2 linked regions of the Homo sapiens genome follow. The protein of the gene in region 2 purifies or fractionates together with the protein of the main gene of each other region. This does not show direct contact. Each region holds a gene or a part of one and is shown on either strand. Other genes may lie near its edges. The genes, in order: FCN1 and C8orf58.

Region 1 (2,902 bases), on a different chromosome or scaffold from region 2:
AGGTATTTATCAAAAAGTGCTCCACTTTTCACTTACCAGAGAAATGCAAATCAGCACCCAAAGGAGTCACTGCGGCACCCTCATCTGAGCCTCAGAAGTTAGAAAGATGGATAGCACCAGTGTCAAAGGTGACTGTGGGAGGGAGATTTGCATACACTGCTAGTAACAATGCGAATTGATGGAACCAACCTGGAAAATGGCTTGGCATCAACTGTTGGAGAAGAAGACACACAGTCCTCTAACCTGCCAGTCCCACATCAGGGCCTGGATATGGCCGTCATGTGTACCAGGGAGCATGGCCAGGAATCTTTACAGCCAAATACTCACCATAGCACCAAACTGGAATCAGCCGACATACCCATCAGGAAGAGAATGGATGTTAAAAAATGCAAGGATAGCCATTGGGTAGAACGCCATACAGCCATGACAATTACACAGTGACACCTACACACAAGGAGCATGAGTCTCACAAACATGGCAGCAAAAGGAGCCTGTTCAAGAGGGTATGTGCTATGGATTCCATTGTAGATAAAGTTTTTCAAAAGCAAAAGTAGCCAATGGTATTTTGGATGCATATTTAGGTGGTAAATGTATACAGGAAAAATAAGAAAGTGATTGTATTTGAGGGTGGGACCACATGGTGACTGGGAAGGGACAGGGACAAGCCTCTGGGGTTCTGGCAATGCTCTGTTTCTTGACCCAGGTGGTGATTGTAAGGATGTTTGTTAACTAGTGATGAAAATAATTAAGCTGTACTTTTGCTTTATACACTTTTGAGTACATGTTATGTTCCACAATTTAAAAACTACTTATAAAGAAACTGCACATGCTTGGATCCAGGAACATGAGCTACAGGCACATCCTCCACTGATGCCCAGTGTTCTTGACTCAATACCTGTAAGGAGAGGTCCTTGTAGCCCATTGGGGGCTGACCAGACCCTACTACGCCCCTGCCACAATCTCTAGTCCATCACAAAATCCACTATTGGGATAGTACTTTCGTCCCTCAGTAGGTAAGCATTTTTACAACCTAGGAAGACTTAGCTTTAAGTCTAGAAATGATTAGTATAAATATAAAATATAAATATGATTAATATAAATATAAAATAGCCATAGAAATATGCCTTTTAGTTTGTTTTTTGAGACAGAGTTTTACTCTGCCACCCAGGCTGGAGTGCAGTGGCGTGATCTCAGCTCACTGCAATCTCCACCTCCCAGGTTCAAGAGATTCTCATGCTTCAGCCTCCCAAGTAGCTGGGATCACAGGCACACACAACCATGCCCAGCAATTTTTTTGTATTTTTAGTAGAGATGGGGTTTCGCCGTGTTGGCCAGGCTGGTCTTGAACTCCCGACCTCAAGTGATCCACCCGCCTCTGCCTCCCAAATTGCTGAGATTACAGGCGTGAGACACTGTGCCTGGCCAAAATATGCCTTTTGTATTAAGGAATCTGGACAGGTTTGATTTTTCACAGTCTTGTAATGTTTAAATAATTTGGCCTATTATGAAGAATCTCACAAATCCAATATAAAATGTGGAACTAACTAATCAAAATCATCTTGTAATATTACATGGAAATCTTAGTGCGTTTATACACGGTATTGGCATATTTAAGAGACTTTGAGCTCATTGCATTTCTAAGTTAAATTATTAGATTTCTTAAGATTTAAGTTAAATTATTAGATTTTTAAAGATTAATTAGTGCTAAGGAGGGTTTTCTCATTAGACAGCTGAAATGCCGCAGGAGAAATTTGAGTGTATTCCACTTCTTATTGCAATTTTAAATGTTTGAAGTTATTTAAAGAACTAAATTTATGGTATCCAAAAGCTCTAAAAAGGTGACTCTTAAGATTTGCAGGTCTTATAAATAGAAAAACAAGAACTGTAAGCCAAACTTAAAATATTCAGGATGAATTGAGTTTTTGAATTTGTAGCTTTCAGAAACTGAACATTAATTTTAAGAAGCAAAGCAGGCTGGGCACAGTGGCTCACGCCTGTAATCCTAGCACTTTAGGAGGCTGAAGTGGGTGGATCACTTGAGATCAGGAGTTCAAGACCAGCCTGGCCAACATGATGAAACCTCCTCTCTACTAAAAATACAAAACTCCGCCAGAAATCGCTTGATCCCGGGAGGTGGAGGTTGCAGTGAGCTGAGATCGTGCCACTGCACTCCAGCCTGGGGAACAGAGCGAGATTCCGCCTCAAAAAAAAAATAAAAATAAAAAGAAGAAGAAGAAGAAGGAGAAAGAGGGAGAGGGAGAGGGAGAGGGAGAGGGAGAGGGAGAGGGAGAAGAAGAAGAAGAAGAAGAAGAAGAAGAAGAAGAAGAAGAAGAAGAAGAAGAAGAAGAGGAAGAGGAAGAGGAAGAGGAAGAGGAAGAGGAAGAGGAAGAAGAAGAAGAAGAGGAAGAAGAAGAAGAAGCAGCAGCAGCGGCCAGGCGCGGTGGCTCACGCTTGTAATCCCAGCACTTTGGGAGGCCGAGGCGGGCGGATCACAAGGTCAGGAGATCAAGACCATCCTGGCTAACATGATGAAACCCCGTCTCTACTAAAAATACAAAAAAATTAGCCGTTCATGGTGGGGGATGCCTATCGTCCCAGCTACTCGAGAAGCTGAGGCAGGAGAATGGCGTGAACCCAGGAGGCAGAGGTTGAAGTGAGCCGAGATCGCACCACTGCACTCCAGCCTGGGCGACAGAGCGAGACTCTGTCTCAAAATAAAAGAAGCAAAGCAAGCTTATGAAGAGATGAAGAGTCTTTTCCCATCACCAATTCCTCCCCAACTCACATCAGCAGAACTGAGAGAGCTTTTGTGATTTGAGGGATAAAGCTGAATGGGTGAAAAGAAATCAAGCCCTCCTCCTCTTGGGCCAGTGCTCTTCTTCCTGGCCATGGGACCTCTCAA
Region 2 (3,912 bases):
GACAGGTGATCAGGGCCTGGCTAGAGGGCTGAAGCTGCTCTGAGGGCAGCCATGGTTCCCAGGGTCCCATCTGTCCTCTCCCTCCCCCACTCGAATCTCACTCACCCCTGGGGGCCTCTGGATCCGCAGCTGCAGGTAGAGCTGCTGGAGCCTTGCCATCTGCTCCAGCACCAGGCACAGGTGTTCCAGATAGCGAAGACCCTGCCCGGGGAGGCAGGCCCAGGCTCCAGGCCCCAGGCCCCCCACCTGTGGGACATTGTGAGATAGGGGAGATTTCAGCCAGTAGGGCTCCTGCCCTACCCTAAGCAGCCAGGCTGGGCTCAGCCAGCAGATGGGAGCAGAGTGGGCCCCGAGGAGGAACACACGCAGCCGGCTTCCCCACTGCCCAGCGGGGCATAGTGCCAGGAAGGGCCCCCGTAGCTGCCCACCTCCTCTGCAGAGGTGGCCGTGCACAAATGGAACTGGGGTGCAGAAAGAACCTATGACACAACCCATCAATTAGGGGCAGGGAGTGCCCCACCCAGAGAGAGCTCCAGGGAGAACCAGAGGAGCTAGGCTGTCCATCCCACTCTTAAACCCAGCCTGAGAGTGAGCACTCACCGCCTCTTCTTCCAGGCCTGCCTCTAGGTCTGTGTCTGCCTCCATGGACTCCTGTTGCCCTGCTCCAAGGGGCACTTCACGCTCAGGCTTGCTTGCCAGCCGCAGGGAGCGGTGTTGTCCTGACAAGCTGGTGGGAGCTGTTGGGAGCCGGCGGGACCGCTCCAACACCTCCCCCAGCTTCTGGCTGGCCAGGAGTCGGCCTACCTGGGCGGGGGGCTCAGAACTCCCTGAGGATTCAAAGTCCAGGGAGTCCTGAGAAAGGCCCGGTAAGGCGGCCAGGGGGCTGTCCCCAACTGCCATCTCCACTCCTGAGTCCCGGGAGGCCAGTTTGAGAAAGAGTGCCTCCCTGCCGACACCTCTGAACTTGTCACCTCTCTCCCAGGATGAGCACCCGTGGGCAGCGTCGGGGATCCGTCTGTAGGTGCTGGTGACTCCAGGCACTATGCAGCCCCGTGCCAGGCCCTCGCCAGCCCCATCTGCATGGAGAGTCAGCGTCAGGCTGGGCAGGCCACCCCCAACACCCCCAGCATTCCTGAAGGCTGGCAGCACTGCCCCAGGGAGAAGTGTCCCGGAGCAGTGAGGAAGGGCGGTCACTGGACAGCCACGGGCAGCCCGGATATGGCCCCAGCTGTCTGGGAGATGTGTGGATGGGATTCCCTTCGCAACGGTTGTTAGCGACAGGGAACCCGTGCTCTGAGCTGTGTGGTAGGCAAAGCCCTGGCAGGCCACATCCATCAATCCCTTAGACGGCCTGCGCCTGCGCTTCCCACCTAGGATCAGCCCACGATCTCCCGAGTCAGAAGTAGGGAGCCACAGGCTCTTCCGCTGCTCCCCAAGCGGGAGTAGGACTGTATCCAGCTTCAGGGAGAGGGGAGAGGGTACAGAGAGGAAAGCCTGGGATCCAACCTGCTCTCTGGGGGCCCCTGCGGCATCAGGATGCCAGGTGAAGTCTCTCCTGCAGCTCACCGGGAGAGTGATAAAAATCACCGCTATAACCGATTTGGGCTTTTGTTGTAAGTGAGCAATAGTGAAGATTTTATGAAAAGTTTAAAATGAAAGAACTGAAGTGAAAGAAAGGGACGAAGGGGCAGCATTAGCACCCCCTCACTGTCACCTCCGCCAGGCCCTCTGGCGACGGGGCGTCCTGGCGGAATGAACGGTACGGGAAACAGGCTAGGGGGGCGGGGACGAGCTGCGGGGCACGCGGGAGCCGAATGCCAACCCAGGCCCCTCTGGGCAAGGAAGTGGGCCAGGAGGTCACTGGGTGGGAGAGGGGTCCGCAGCCACGGAGGGGGCTGGGGCGCGGGCGGATTCCCACATCCTCAGAAGGAGCGGGAAGGCGAGGGAAGCGGAGCCGGAGGAAGTGGGGCGGAGGCGGTGGCTGGTTTAACGCCTGGGCCCAAAGGGGTTCCAGCCTGCATGGCGTCCCCTGATGACCGCCCCTCCAGGGAGGCGGCGAGGGAGGCGCAGCGGCGCGGGCTCCGCCCGCGGGGTGCGCGGGGCTGGGCAAGAAACTGAGAGAGGGTGCCCGGCTTGGGGGCGGGAAGCGGCTCCGGGGCAGGGGGGAGCCCGGCCAGCCTGGGGGTGGGTGACTCACCCCGGCCGTCCACGGCGAAGGCGCGCCGCCGGCCCATCATGGCCCGCTCCCGGCCCCGGCCCCGGCCAATGCAGCCGCCCGAGGATCCCGGCCCGAGTCCCCGCGGAGCTCGGGCAGCTCAGGGAGCGCGTCCCGACCCAGCTGGGCGCGGCCCCCAGACACTCCCAGCGGGGCTGGGGGGGCGGGGAGCGGGGCTGGGGGGGCGGGGGGCGGGGCGGTGGGGGGCGTGGCCTAGGGGGAGGAGAGAGGAAGAGCGAGACGAGGAAGGGAGGGGCGAGGAGAGAGGGGAGGGGCGAGACGAGGGAGGGGAGGGGCGAGGCAAGGTAGGGGAGCGGCGAGAGGAGGGGAGGGGCGAGGGGAAGGGGGAGGGGCGAGGAGAAGGGGGCGAGGAGAAAGGGGCGGGGCAAGACGAGGGATGAGAGGAACGAGGCGAGGGAGGGGAAAGGAGAGGGAGGGGAGGGGCGAGGAGAGGGAGGGGAGGGGCGAGGAAGAGGAGGGCGAGGGGAGGGGAGAGGAGAGGGTGGGGAGGGGAGAGGGAGGGGAGAGGGGAGGGGCGAGGAGAGGGTGGGCAGAGGAGAGGGAGGGGAGAGGGGAGAGGGGAGGAAAGGAGAGGGGAGAGGGGAGGAGAGGAGAGGGGAGAGGGAAAGGGGAGAGGAGAGGGAGGGGAGGGGAGAGGAGAGGGAGGGGAGGGGAGAGGAGAGGGGAGGGGCGAGAGGAGGGAGGGGAGGGGCGAGAGGAGGGAAGGCAAGGGTGCCAGGTGGGGGGCGCAGGTGGCCGGGTCGCCAAGAACGAGGTCGAAGGCACGGACTGGGTGGCGCCCCCAACTGTGGCTGTGGCCAAAATAAGGGTCCCGATCAGCTGTTCTGCGAGGACCCGGCCCCCGCCTGGGGACGCCGTCTGGCTCGGGGCGCCGGTCCGCCCGGCCCCGCGGGTTCACACGCAGCGTCCGTCTTCCTGCCGCGGACTTAGAGCCGGGGCTGGCTGGAGGACCGGACAAGAGCCAGGAAGGAAATGGGAGCCCCACGTGCTGGCGGTGGGAAGAGCGCTGACCAGGACGCGGGCACCCGGCGCTCCCTAGCAGTGTGGCTTGGGGGCCAGTCTCTTGGCCGCTCGGAAACCTGGGCGATGGGAGGGGAAACGATCCTGCCCACCGGGAAATCTTTTACAACTGCAGAACGCGCGTGTGTCCTCAGCTAGATCTGAACCCCCTCCCGGTCCCCTGCCTCTTTCTCATCCCGGGCTCCCTAAAGCTGGGGACTGGGTAGGTCTCAAGGTCTGGAAAGATGCGAGCCAGCGGGGAGCCGCCTGGAGACTGGGCCAAAGTGTAAATGTCCCCCTGTTCCCACCTCACCCTGCCTTTGGCCCGTGGGATTCCACCCCTCAGTCCCCAACCTAAAAGGAGCCCAAGAAGCTACTGAAGATGAGAGAGAGCCTGGTGACCAGACTGGGGCTGGTGTCCTCTAAAGAAGGCACCTCCTCCAGAGGGAGGGGGCAGGGCTGGAAAAATCCCAGCAGGACCCAAATCCCCCGGAGGCAGATAAGGGAGCTGGAGGACGTGCAGACTAGCACCTGGACCTCTAGGGGAGGGGAGAGGCTGGAGCCAGAGCCACTGGAAGGAAGTGGCTGTTTACCGGGAGGGGTAAGACAGTCTGTGCATCCCCTTCCCTTTGCTCCTTTCTGGAACCAGTCCCCAAACACCCACTGCAGGAGCCTTT

Evidence for each region.
Region 1: the proteins of C8orf58 (region 2) and FCN1 purify together in Homo sapiens (affinity purification with mass spectrometry; one large-scale study listed by BioGRID and IntAct). This does not show direct contact.

What each region holds. Positions count from the first base shown.
Region 1 is NC_000009.12:134,905,311-134,908,212, reverse strand, and holds part of FCN1 (ficolin-1 precursor), read left to right. Parts: 3' UTR 1-2,902.
Region 2 is NC_000008.11:22,598,046-22,601,957, reverse strand, and holds the start of C8orf58 (uncharacterized protein C8orf58), read right to left. Parts: upstream 2,360-3,912; 5' UTR 2,238-2,359; coding exon 2,198-2,237; intron 1,077-2,197; coding exon 601-1,076; intron 247-600; coding exon 106-246; intron 1-105.